Linked DNA regions of Homo sapiens. Changing the gene in region 2 together with the main gene of any one other region gives a genetic interaction. Each region holds a gene or a part of one and is shown on either strand. Other genes may lie near its edges.

What was found. Genes that interact genetically often act in the same process or in processes that back each other up.
Region 1: changes in HAPSTR1 (region 2) and TMEM273 together harm fitness less than expected from each alone (positive genetic interaction), as found in Homo sapiens cells (one large-scale study listed by BioGRID).

The regions. Positions count from the first base shown.
Region 1 is NC_000010.11:49,163,166-49,168,362, reverse strand, and holds part of TMEM273 (transmembrane protein 273 isoform 2 precursor), read left to right. Parts: intron 1-400; coding exon 401-454; intron 455-1,353; coding exon 1,354-1,494; intron 1,495-2,566; coding exon 2,567-2,597; intron 2,598-3,001; coding exon of another isoform or gene 3,002-3,079; coding exon 3,080-3,158; intron 3,159-5,197.
Region 2 is NC_000016.10:9,100,446-9,105,642, forward strand, and holds part of HAPSTR1 (HUWE1-associated protein modifying stress responses 1), read left to right. Parts: intron 1-479; exon of another isoform or gene 480-584; intron 585-2,538; coding exon 2,539-2,814; exon of another isoform or gene 2,815-5,197. UniProt on the Homo sapiens protein: Acts as a central player within a network of stress response pathways promoting cellular adaptability. The E3 ligase HUWE1 assists HAPSTR1 in controlling stress signaling and in turn, HUWE1 feeds back to promote the degradation of HAPSTR1.

The DNA of each region.
Region 1 (5,197 bases), on a different chromosome or scaffold from region 2:
AGGGAAGAAGATGGGGTCAGGCAGAGGGTGTGGCCCTGAGGCAGGGCAGGAGATTCCCTGGCTGTGTGGGGAACTAGAAGCACCAAAGCCATGCTGGATTAAGGAGGGCCTTGGGAGCCACAGGGGAGCTTGTGGAGCAGGCTTGGGTCAGAGTTCAGGTCTTGGAAACTGTGCTGAACGGCTGACTGAAGTGCATTGGGTGGAGACGCGTTCCTGGTCTGAGTTTTGAGGGAAGCTCTGATGTCTCAGCAAGGCTCCAAGACACTCCATGGCAATTGGGAGCCCACCTCTGTGCTCCTGGTGGGTACATGGGGTAGGCTTTCCCAGGCCTCTGAGACTGGGTAGCTGGGACCACAGCCAGCTCTGTTCTAACCAGGCTCTGGGGTTTCTTTCTTTGCAGATGTAGGAGGAGCTCAAGTGCTGGCAACAGGCAAGACCCCTGGGGCTGAAATTGGTACGTGGCTGCCCATGTTATTCTGTGCACAGGGTCAGGGGCAGGAAGGAAGCTCCCAAGACAAGCAAGCAGAGGGCCGCAGTGCTGGAATTGGTTCCCTGCTGTCAGCATAGGAAAAGGGGCACCCTCACCTCCAGGTCCCCCAGAGCAGCTGACAGCTTTATTTCGGGGGAAAGGCCTTGCATTAAAGCTCGTCCACACAGGGGACGTGATACCTCAGGGCCACAGATGCGTGGCTCCAGCACCCACTGAGCCCTGTCCCACAGCCATGGGCCCTGACAGCATGCTTTGCCAGGCTCACAGCCCTCATCGGTGCCTCCCTCCACCTGCGAGCTTCCAGCCTGTCTGCCCCTTAAGGGCCTCATCTGCTGGCCAGGCTCAGTCTGCATGCCTCACCCTCTGAGAAGGCTCTGGACGCCCATGACTCTAGGCCAACCCAGCCTCTCCCGTCATGAGCTCCTTCCCTGTCCTCCCCAGCTGACTGCAGGCTCCTCAAAGGCCAGACAGGCCTTATCCATTCTCCTGCAGTGTTCACCACAGAGCAGGCAATTAACACACACCCAATAGATGAGTGGATGAATTAACGAAGGGATCAGTGAGGAAGGGCTAGGAGGCTCAGGTGGCCAGAGAAATGAGCCACTCACCTTTTGGGCAGGGGTAGCCAGGTGAGCTTCAGGGAGCCTTGAAAGGTGGCAACAGTTTCTACAGCTGAAGGAGGGGATGGGGTGCAGGCAGAGGCTAGGAGCAAAGGGACTCATGGGAGAGTAGAAGGTGAGGCTGGCCTCAGCCAGTGGGAGGTGGTGTGTTAAGGGCCACATGCATGCTTTGGACCTCATCTGGAATGCAGAGGGAGCTGCAGGTGACTGAAACCGGGTGTTCAATTCCTCCCTGCGTTTCAGATTTCAAGTACGCCCTCATCGGGACTGCTGTGGGTGTCGCCATATCTGCTGGCTTCCTGGCCCTGAAGATCTGCATGATCAGGAGGCACTTATTTGACGACGACTCTTCCGACCTGAAAAGCACGCCTGGGGGCCTCAGTGGTGAGGGATGTGGTGCTCGGGCCTGGCTCTGCCCCACCCAGCGAGGCACCGAGGGCCACTCTGTGATGCTGGCTACAGCAAGAATGAACCCACAAGCGCAGAGCCCAACAGGCTGTAAAGGAAGGCAGTGACCTCTGCATGTTTCTGTCTCTCTCACTAACCCTTTGCCTCTGTTTCTCTTTCTTCTGTCTCTATCTCTCTCTGTCTCTCTATTTGTGTTCCTTTTTCTGTCTCCCTTTCCATGTCTCTGTCTTTCTGTGTCTCTTTCCCTCTGTACTTTTCCTTTCAGTTGCTCTTGGCAGTCCTGAGAATCACATTTCCTGGAGAAAGGTGGGAGAGGAACTAAAATTGGCTTCACACAGAAATTTCTGTTCTCTCATCCAAATGATGAGATCAAATAAACCCAGTCCCAGTAGGCAGCGAGGTTGGTCCTAAGTGTGGGCGGATGGTGGGAGGTTCTGTTGACACTGCCTTTGTGGGTCAAGATGAATTTTTTTTCATAAATTGGGAAAGTCCTTCTCAAAGCAGTACTGAGTAGGCCCTCAGAGAGAAACTGAGCTGGCTGACATGCACCATGGCACAGCCCTCTGCCTCCTTGGCACCCAAAGTGCAGTATTGATTTGCATCCCTTCTCTCAGGGTATCATCCCCAGACTCATCCTCTGTTGTATTAGATGGCTCACTGCAATGACGGTGCAGTTTTCCATGGGGTGCTTCTGGGGAGAATAGAGCCTCACTGCCTTCCTGGAAGACGTGATTATGATCCGTGAAGATAAGCAGAAGGGGCTGGTCTGGGCCGGGAGAGGAGGAGGCTTCCGAGATGCTGGCGTGTGCATCGCCCGAGGGGCTTAATAGGCCATGGGAGTTTGCTTATCCTTGAGTTTGCTTATCCTTGTGTATCCCCACAAATAAGGGGAGGAAACAGCCTCTTCATCACATAGCAGCCAGGCCCCGGGTCTCTCGAGGGCAACCGTGAGTGAGAGGACCAAGGAGAGGGAGGTGAAAGCTCTAGGGAATGCTCTGCACCTCTTGTCACACGACCCCCTTCCTAATGCCCGGCTTTCTCTGTTTAGACACCATCCCGCTAAAGAAGAGAGCCCCAAGGTAAGGTCACTGCCCACACAGTCAGGGAGAGGTATCGTGTTCTCTCCTGTCTTGACCGTGCCACTCCCTTGCCTGTCATCCCCAGCCTTCTCTGCACTCTGGCATGCTTTCTAGGTGACTAGAATGCACCTCGTGGTCCCCTCCTTACACTCTCTCCTCCTCTGGACCAGTGGGCAGGTGTCACAAGAGTGAGGGCCACAGGCTACAGCCGTCAAAGGGAGTAGGGCTCGCCTCTGCATAGCCTGGATTAGATCCTGTTCCACCCCCACTCAGACCCCTTCAGTGCATACCCCTGACTTTCAGAATGAGGCCTCCAGCCCCTGTCACTTGGGAGGTCACACGTGGTTTGTCCCAGGTTTCTGGGCTTCCCTGCTGGCATCAAGGTACCCTGCTCTTCTGCACAGAGCCCACGTCCTCAGGGACGGTCCTGCCTTGGGACCTTTGCACTTGCTGTTTTCTGTAATTGGAATGCTCTTTGCCAGAAAGCTGCAAGCCTCGACCCTCTTTTCCTTCAAATCCCTGCTTCAGTGTCACCACTGCATCATGGAGGGCCTATTTAAGGTACAATCCCCTCTCGACTCCAGCCACCATTCTCTTCTCTTTGCTTGGCTTTAGTTTTCTTTATAATTCTTTGCACTAGTTGATGCTATACGATATATTGATTTGTCTATTTTGCATGGGTTTTTTTCTAAAATGTAAGCTCCGGGCGGGTAGGGTCTTCCTTTTCACTTCTGTAGCACAGCACTTAGCACAGTGCCAGGGACAAAGTGGATACTTGCATATGTGTTGAATGAATGAATAAATAACTGAACATGAGGCCATGGGCTAGGTGCTGGGGGTCAAGGAGAGAGAAGTAGGACAATCTCCCCCAGTCTACAGGGGAGACAGGCAGGTCCCAGGTGGTGGCTGCACAGTGGGGGTGGGGGTCCCGGGAGGTCTATGGCAGGCTAAGCATGTGTTGCCTTGTGTCTTGGGGGTGCAGAGGGCTGCATAGCCACTAGGAGGTGCAGGGGAGCCTCAGGCTACGTGCGGAAGGACTAAGAGAAGCTCATGAATGCAGAGGGAACCCTAGTATATGTAGGCATCATGGGTAAAACCTGCCGCTGACAAACATGCAGTGTGGCAGAAGCAAGTGTTTCATGTGACGATATGGAAGGAAGCGCTGGAGAGATAGGTAGTTTCTATGCATGTACAGTCAGAGGGGCTTGTGTTAAGCAAAGGAGTCTGAAATCTGTCCTGAAACTTCTGGTCACCTACAGATGGGTTCTAAGCAGGGGAGAGAGAGAATATTTTTTGTTATATGGTGGCATGGAGGAGGGCCCAGCTGCAGCCAGGAAGATGTGCTGGAAGCCCGGACAGAGACTCAGGCCTGGTGCAAAGCCCTGCTGGAGTAAGTCCAGGTGGAGGCAATGGAAAAAATGAAAGATGGGAACAAAGTTAAGGAGGAGCTGGCCCAGGGACCTGGGATGAGGGACTGAGACAGCCACTGGAGGAGAGAAAAGAATCTAGAACAGCTCAGAGTTTTCTCTGAGCAGGTGCCCTTTGGGAAGTTGGTGGGGGAGCAGCTTTGGGCAGTGAGCTGGGTGAGATGATATTTTTTTGAACATGGTGAGCCGAAAGTTTCTGGACACTTCCATGTAGAGGAGATGTCTAGTAAGTGGCTGGCATTTAGGACAGAGGTCTGGGTTGACACAGGGTTAGTGGCTTTTAGAAAGTACCCAGAGCCCAGTCTCACCCTCCAGTTCTTCCATGGGACCAGGGACTGGGTAACTTCCAAGTAGTGTCTATTGAAGGAGCGGATGGATTAATGGCTGCATGAGGGATGAACGCATGGTGCATTGTGGCTGCGGGTCATGACTCATCAGCCCTCATGGAGTCATGCGCTTGGGATGAGCTGGACATGGATTTTCTTGAGAAGTTCACTTTTTTTGAGGATTTCTCCTCCTACAGATATTCTAGTTTTCAGCAGTGGTTTCTGATTGTGAAGCATTAAAGCACATTTCATCAACTCTGTCTCCCAGCACCCCATCTCTCCTTCTGTTTCTGACTCTCACTCTCCTTCTCTCTGTCCCCTCCCATGTCATCCCCCCACCCCAAGTTTGTGTCAGTCCACTGGGTCCTGGGCTGGAGAAGACAGGATATATAACTTATCATCCAAGACAGCACTTTGTGAGAGTGAGAAGAGGCTCTGTAAAAGTTGCACCAGGATGATAGGTGTGAGCCTGGACTGTCCTAGGGAAATAGGGATGTGTGGTCAACTTAGATTGAGTGGGCCTGTGAAGTGTCCAGGCCCCGGTGGCCACACAGCACTCCTCTTGCTGGCCATGTCACGTTCTCTGCATCTAGGGCATGTAACCAGCTTCAGGGGGTTTTGGAAATGTGTGGTCGAATTGGGGATATTTCAGGTTGAGGGACCAGAGATGCCATATGTCCCATCTCTCTCTCTCTCTCTCTCTCTCACACACACACACACACATGCACATATTCACACACCCAGACCCACATTGGCTGAAGTTGTCACATTCCTTTTTATAGAAGAAACATGCCGAACTGCTCCCAGTGCCCCCAAATCCACTGATGCGGGAGAGTAGAGTTCCATG
Region 2 (5,197 bases):
GCCCCTTCCTTTTGGCCCTTGAGTTTTGTATCAAGTTTAGCTTCTCTTTTTTTGCTGTCTGGTTTGCCAGGTGTATGTTTACATGCTTACTTCATCTTTTTTTTTTGAGAGAGAGTCTTACTCTTTCGCCCAGGCTGGAGTGAAGTGGCGCATTCTTGGCTCACTGCCACCTCTGCTTCCCAGGTTCAAGTGATTCTCCTGCCTCAGCCTCCCGAGTAGCTGGGATTACAGGTGCCTACCACCCATGCCTGGCTAATTTTTGTATTTTTAGTAGAGGCGGGGTTTTGCCATCTTGGCCAGGCTGGTCTCGAACTCCTGACTTCAGGTGATCCACCCACCTTGGCCTCCCAAAGTGCTAGGATTACAGGCATGAGCCACCATGCCTGGCCATCTTTCTTTGCACTCTCCAAGCCTGCTTCAGACTTGTTTCTTGTATCCCTTTTACTATGCTTTAGACTTTTTTTCCTCTGTTTCTGCAGGGCTGGGCTTACCTCCATTTGGCTTTTGAAGAATAAAATACCCTCATTCTCTTCAGAAACAGAAACTTCTTCATTTACAAGCTTGATTAAAAGCAATTCTTCTAGGTAGGATAGGTTTAAAAACCTGATTGCTTCTAGGTTAACACATTTTACATTTATCCTTTATGTGGTGTGATAAGTTTAGTTGGTCAATGACTTGATTTCTCTTAATGCCTCCAGCTCTTTCAGAATCATTTAAGTTTTAGGTACAGCACTACAAGGTCATCTTTAGGTTTGTCCACCCCTTTAGGGTTGGCTCATCTAAATCTTTTCCTAAAGAGATGGGAAAAGTGGTGACCCTCTCTACTGTTATTTACATTCAAAATGGAGTTCATGCTTTGTTTATGAAGAAGTGAGAAATCAAAATTATTGATTCATGTTATACCAGTAGTGAGACACTGGAGAAGTTACTTCACTCTTGAGCTGCTTTTTATATTTGTAAAATTAGAATAATCCACCTTCTCAGAGTTGTGATGGAGAAGATATGAATGCACTCTATAGCATATCAGGTTTCCAAATTGATGTTGAATTCTTGTCCTGGTCCTTTTCATTTTAAAGTATTTTTTCTTTCTTTTTAACATCCCAGGTCCTACTTTGATTATTTTTTTAAGAGAAAAGATCTGTGGACAATATCCTTGTTTTTCTTTGTCTTTAGCAATAAAGACTGTCATCTGCTTAAGAGTAGGCCTTATTATAAAGTTCTGGTTGTTGTGCTTCCCTCTTGCCATTTTCTTTAATAGTGCAAATTCAGCTTGGCATCCTCTGTGATGTCTGGATGATTTTTTTTTTTTTTTTCTGGAACATAGCTTTACATTGTTTGACTATTGCCCATCCTTTGAGAGTCTGCTGTAGATGTAGCAGACAAGAAATTAAAGCCGCCGGTTGCAGTGGCTCACGCCTGTAATCCCCAGCACTTTGGGAGGCTGAGGCAGGCGGATCACAAGGTCAGGAGTTGAAGACCAGCCTGACCAATATGGTGAAACCCGGTCTCTACTAAAAATAGAAAAATTAGCCAGGCATGGTGGCGTGCGCCTGTAATCCCAGCTACTCAGGAGGCTGAAGCAGGAGAACCCTGGAGGCGGAGGTTGCAGTGAGCTGAGATCGAGCCATCGCACTACAGCCTGGGCAACAGAGAGACTCCGTCTCAAAAAATAAAATAAAACGAAATAATCAAAGCCGGGAAAAGTAATAGAGAAATGTACACAGTATTGTTGCTTTTACGGAAAGTTCAAGGATAAAGTAACGATGTTGGTTAATGCCATTAAAGACATACTGGTGATGTTCTGCTGGCACAGCAGCTCAATTAAAACTAAATAATAGTCACTTAAATTTTCAAATTTTTTTTCAACTAAATGAAACCACTAAAAGGTAGAGATCATTTTACCAAAACCCAGGTGGAGTATATGCAGAGAATTTAGTCTAGGAGATCTGTTGGGAATGGTTGAGTTACAGGAAGCTGTTGAGAACTGGAAGCAAAATGAGTATACCCAGGGAAATGAATAAAGCTTTTTGTTTTCCACCATGCTATTTGGTTTTAGTGTTGAGCCATCAGTCAGAATTAATTTTTCCTTCTAAAACATTTGCTGCTGCCTTCAGCTTGTTCCTCATTCTTGGTGCTGAATCTGTCAGTAGGAATGTATCTCCACAATGACGTGGTAAATGCAGATGAGCGTGGCCTGAGGCATGTGCAATATTTAGACATCTGTTGAATGATGTGATGCAAGTTATTTTAGGTAATTTCATTAAAGATACCTAATCTCTCTGTTTCTGTTAAATTTTTTTTTTTAACAAGCCAAGCTCCAGGACTGTGATAAGTAAACACTGAATTTAGACCATTAAGATTAAATGTTACATATAACATTTTCATTATGACTGAAATCATTTCAGTTTATATTACTGATGGGCTCAGAGGCCACATCATGGTATTCACTTTGGTTAAATTGTAAAATGGTTTTCTTTAGAAGGGAATACGGGCTCTAATGGTCATGATACATGTTTTCTTTTTCTTTTTTTCTAACAGAAAGCGTGGATACCCATCAACGAAGTTTTGATATTGGAATTCAGATTGGCTATCAGCGACGCAATAAGGATGTGTTGGCTTGGGTTAAAAAACGCAGAAGAACTATTCGTCGAGAAGATTTGATCAGCTTCCTGTGTGGAAAAGTTCCTCCACCACGAAACTCTAGAGCTCCCCCAAGACTGACTGTAGTGTCCCCTAACCGAGCTACTTCAACGGAAACTAGCTCATCTGTAGAGACTGATTTGCAACCCTTCCGGGAAGCCATAGCTCTGCATGGTAAAGCCGTTTAAACATATTTCTTTGGAAAAATGGTTAAGAGGGTGCCTGTGGACCCATTTTTCACGGTTAGGTTTAGGTCCAGATATACTGTTTTTTGTCTTACAGTAAACAGCTTGCTCTAGAAATGTTTAATAGAATGTAAGCTAAGAACTTAATATGGGCGATTTCTGTCAGCTAACCTATCCTAGAAAATGTTTTTAGAAAGTTAGTTTGAGCTTATTGGTGTTAAAATGACATATCTTTCTGCAGTGTTGATTAGAATTTATCGCTTTACACTTATGTGTTGTACGTGTTTTTTTCCTCTTCTGAAGTCAAAGAGGAAGTTCTTGTGTCTTAAGAATTCTGTTATATTTCTAATGGTCCATGACAGGCAAGTAAGGTGGGAAATTGTTGGGTTAGTTCTCATGGGACCTGGGACCTCCCTTGACACCTTTCTTACTTGGTTTGCTGTAGATGGTGGGAGAGGATGGATGTAAGACTTGACCTTCTGCCTGTCGTCCCTCAGGTCCCTTGCACTTTAAGAGGCAGGACCAGCAGAGTGCAGCCAGTGGGCAGGTGGATCTCTATCTCCCCAGGCCAGACCTGTCATAAGAAGGCACTCTTGGCTAAGGGATTTTAGTATTGCTGGAGAAACCCGGGAAATGTAGTCAGTGATAAGTCTGTTGTTGCTTGTTGCTGTCTAATACAGACTTCCAAATAGAGCTGGGAGAGTTAACCTGTGTGACAGCATTGAATACTGCTGTAGGAAAAAAAGCAACAGAATAATAAGACTTGCTTGAAACCATGATGGAAAGATGGATCACGCAGATGGCTAAGCAGGTAGAAGTAATTAGGTCATGAATCCTTTTTTTCTTTTTTTTTTTTTTTTGGAGACGGAGTTTCGCTCTTGTGGCCCAGGCTGGAGTGCATTGGCGCGATATTGGCTCACCGCGACCTCTACCTCTGGGTTCAAGCGATTCTCCTGCCTCAGCCTCCCGAGTAGCTGGGATTACAGGCATGTGCCACCACGCCGGCTAATTTTTTAGAGACAGGGTTTCACCGTGTTGGTCAGGCTGGTCTCGAACTCCCAACCTCAGGTGATCCGCCCACCTTGGCCTCCCAAAGTGTTGGGATTACAGGTGTGAGCCACTGCGCCTGGCCATGAGTCTTGTTGAAAGTTAACATTTTTGGGCCATAGTACAGGTCATCTAAAACAAAGTAACCTGGTAAGGTACTAAGAAATAGTGGCATATAAAGAAACTTTATAGACGTTGAATCATTGAGACTTTATAATACCTGTAGAGATCTTGTTCTCTCTGGCAAACCGTAGTTCTTTCCTGAAACCCCAATGTTGTTTTTTCCCTTGATAGTGTTTAGGACAATTAAAAACAAAAACATGAATTGCAGGAAAGTTCAGGTTGTGTGGATGCAGTACTTTAAGACTGCACACTGTTCCTGACACAGTGGAATAGTTAGGCTGTCAGAACTTTGGAAGCTCAGGCAAAAATGGGATTGATCTGTTTATGCTGAATTAGAGAGTTTCACATCTTTCCCCCTAAAGTTTGGGAAAACAATTAACTAGAGGTGTACATAGTTTGTTAGATTAATTTTAGCGCATGGTAATATTTGATGCAGTTGTCTCTCCTTAAGTATTGTGATTTTCTTCCTTTATTAAGAGGGTTGTGGGTCATTCCATGCTTCTCTTAAGGTATCTTTTTACTCTGTTTTACTGTTATATTTTAGAAGATAGTTTTAAGAAACATAAAAACCATGCTTGTTATCTTAACGTAGTAGTAGTGTACATAATAGTAAAAAGGGCAAGCCAGCCCCCTCTGCCCTCGAAAAACTGTATTCTCCAACTCCCACTACATTTTCTCATATTGAATCTGTTCCACCTGTGATTTATTGTTTTCCTGAACTTTGGGAGTTTTAAGCAATGATACAGTTGAAGGGACTGTTTATAATTTTCACATGTTTAAGTTGTGAGGCTTTAAAACTTAAATATAAGGCTTTGTCTAGGAAGAAAATGATCTTTACCTTCAATAAATTTATAATGTAGCACTAATCCAGTATAGATTGGAGACTGAATGCATTCTTACTCTTAGGGTTCATACCTCTAATTCATGTGGTTAAGACAGTGTTGTGGTGAAGTAATAGGGCCCCTTGAAAGAATCTACAGAAACATAAATTATACTGAGTTGTGCTGTACTGGTTTGTGAGAACATCAGTGTATTAAGGAGAATGGTAGTTTAATTTGAATATTTAAAGAAAGTAATTTGAATGGTTCTAGTACTAGGGCCATTATTAACTAGTAACATAGATTAGTGACTTCAACTGGGTGTCCTTATTATCTGATTTGTCTGAAGTGAAAACTGTTAAGGTGCTCTTTTAAAATGTATTT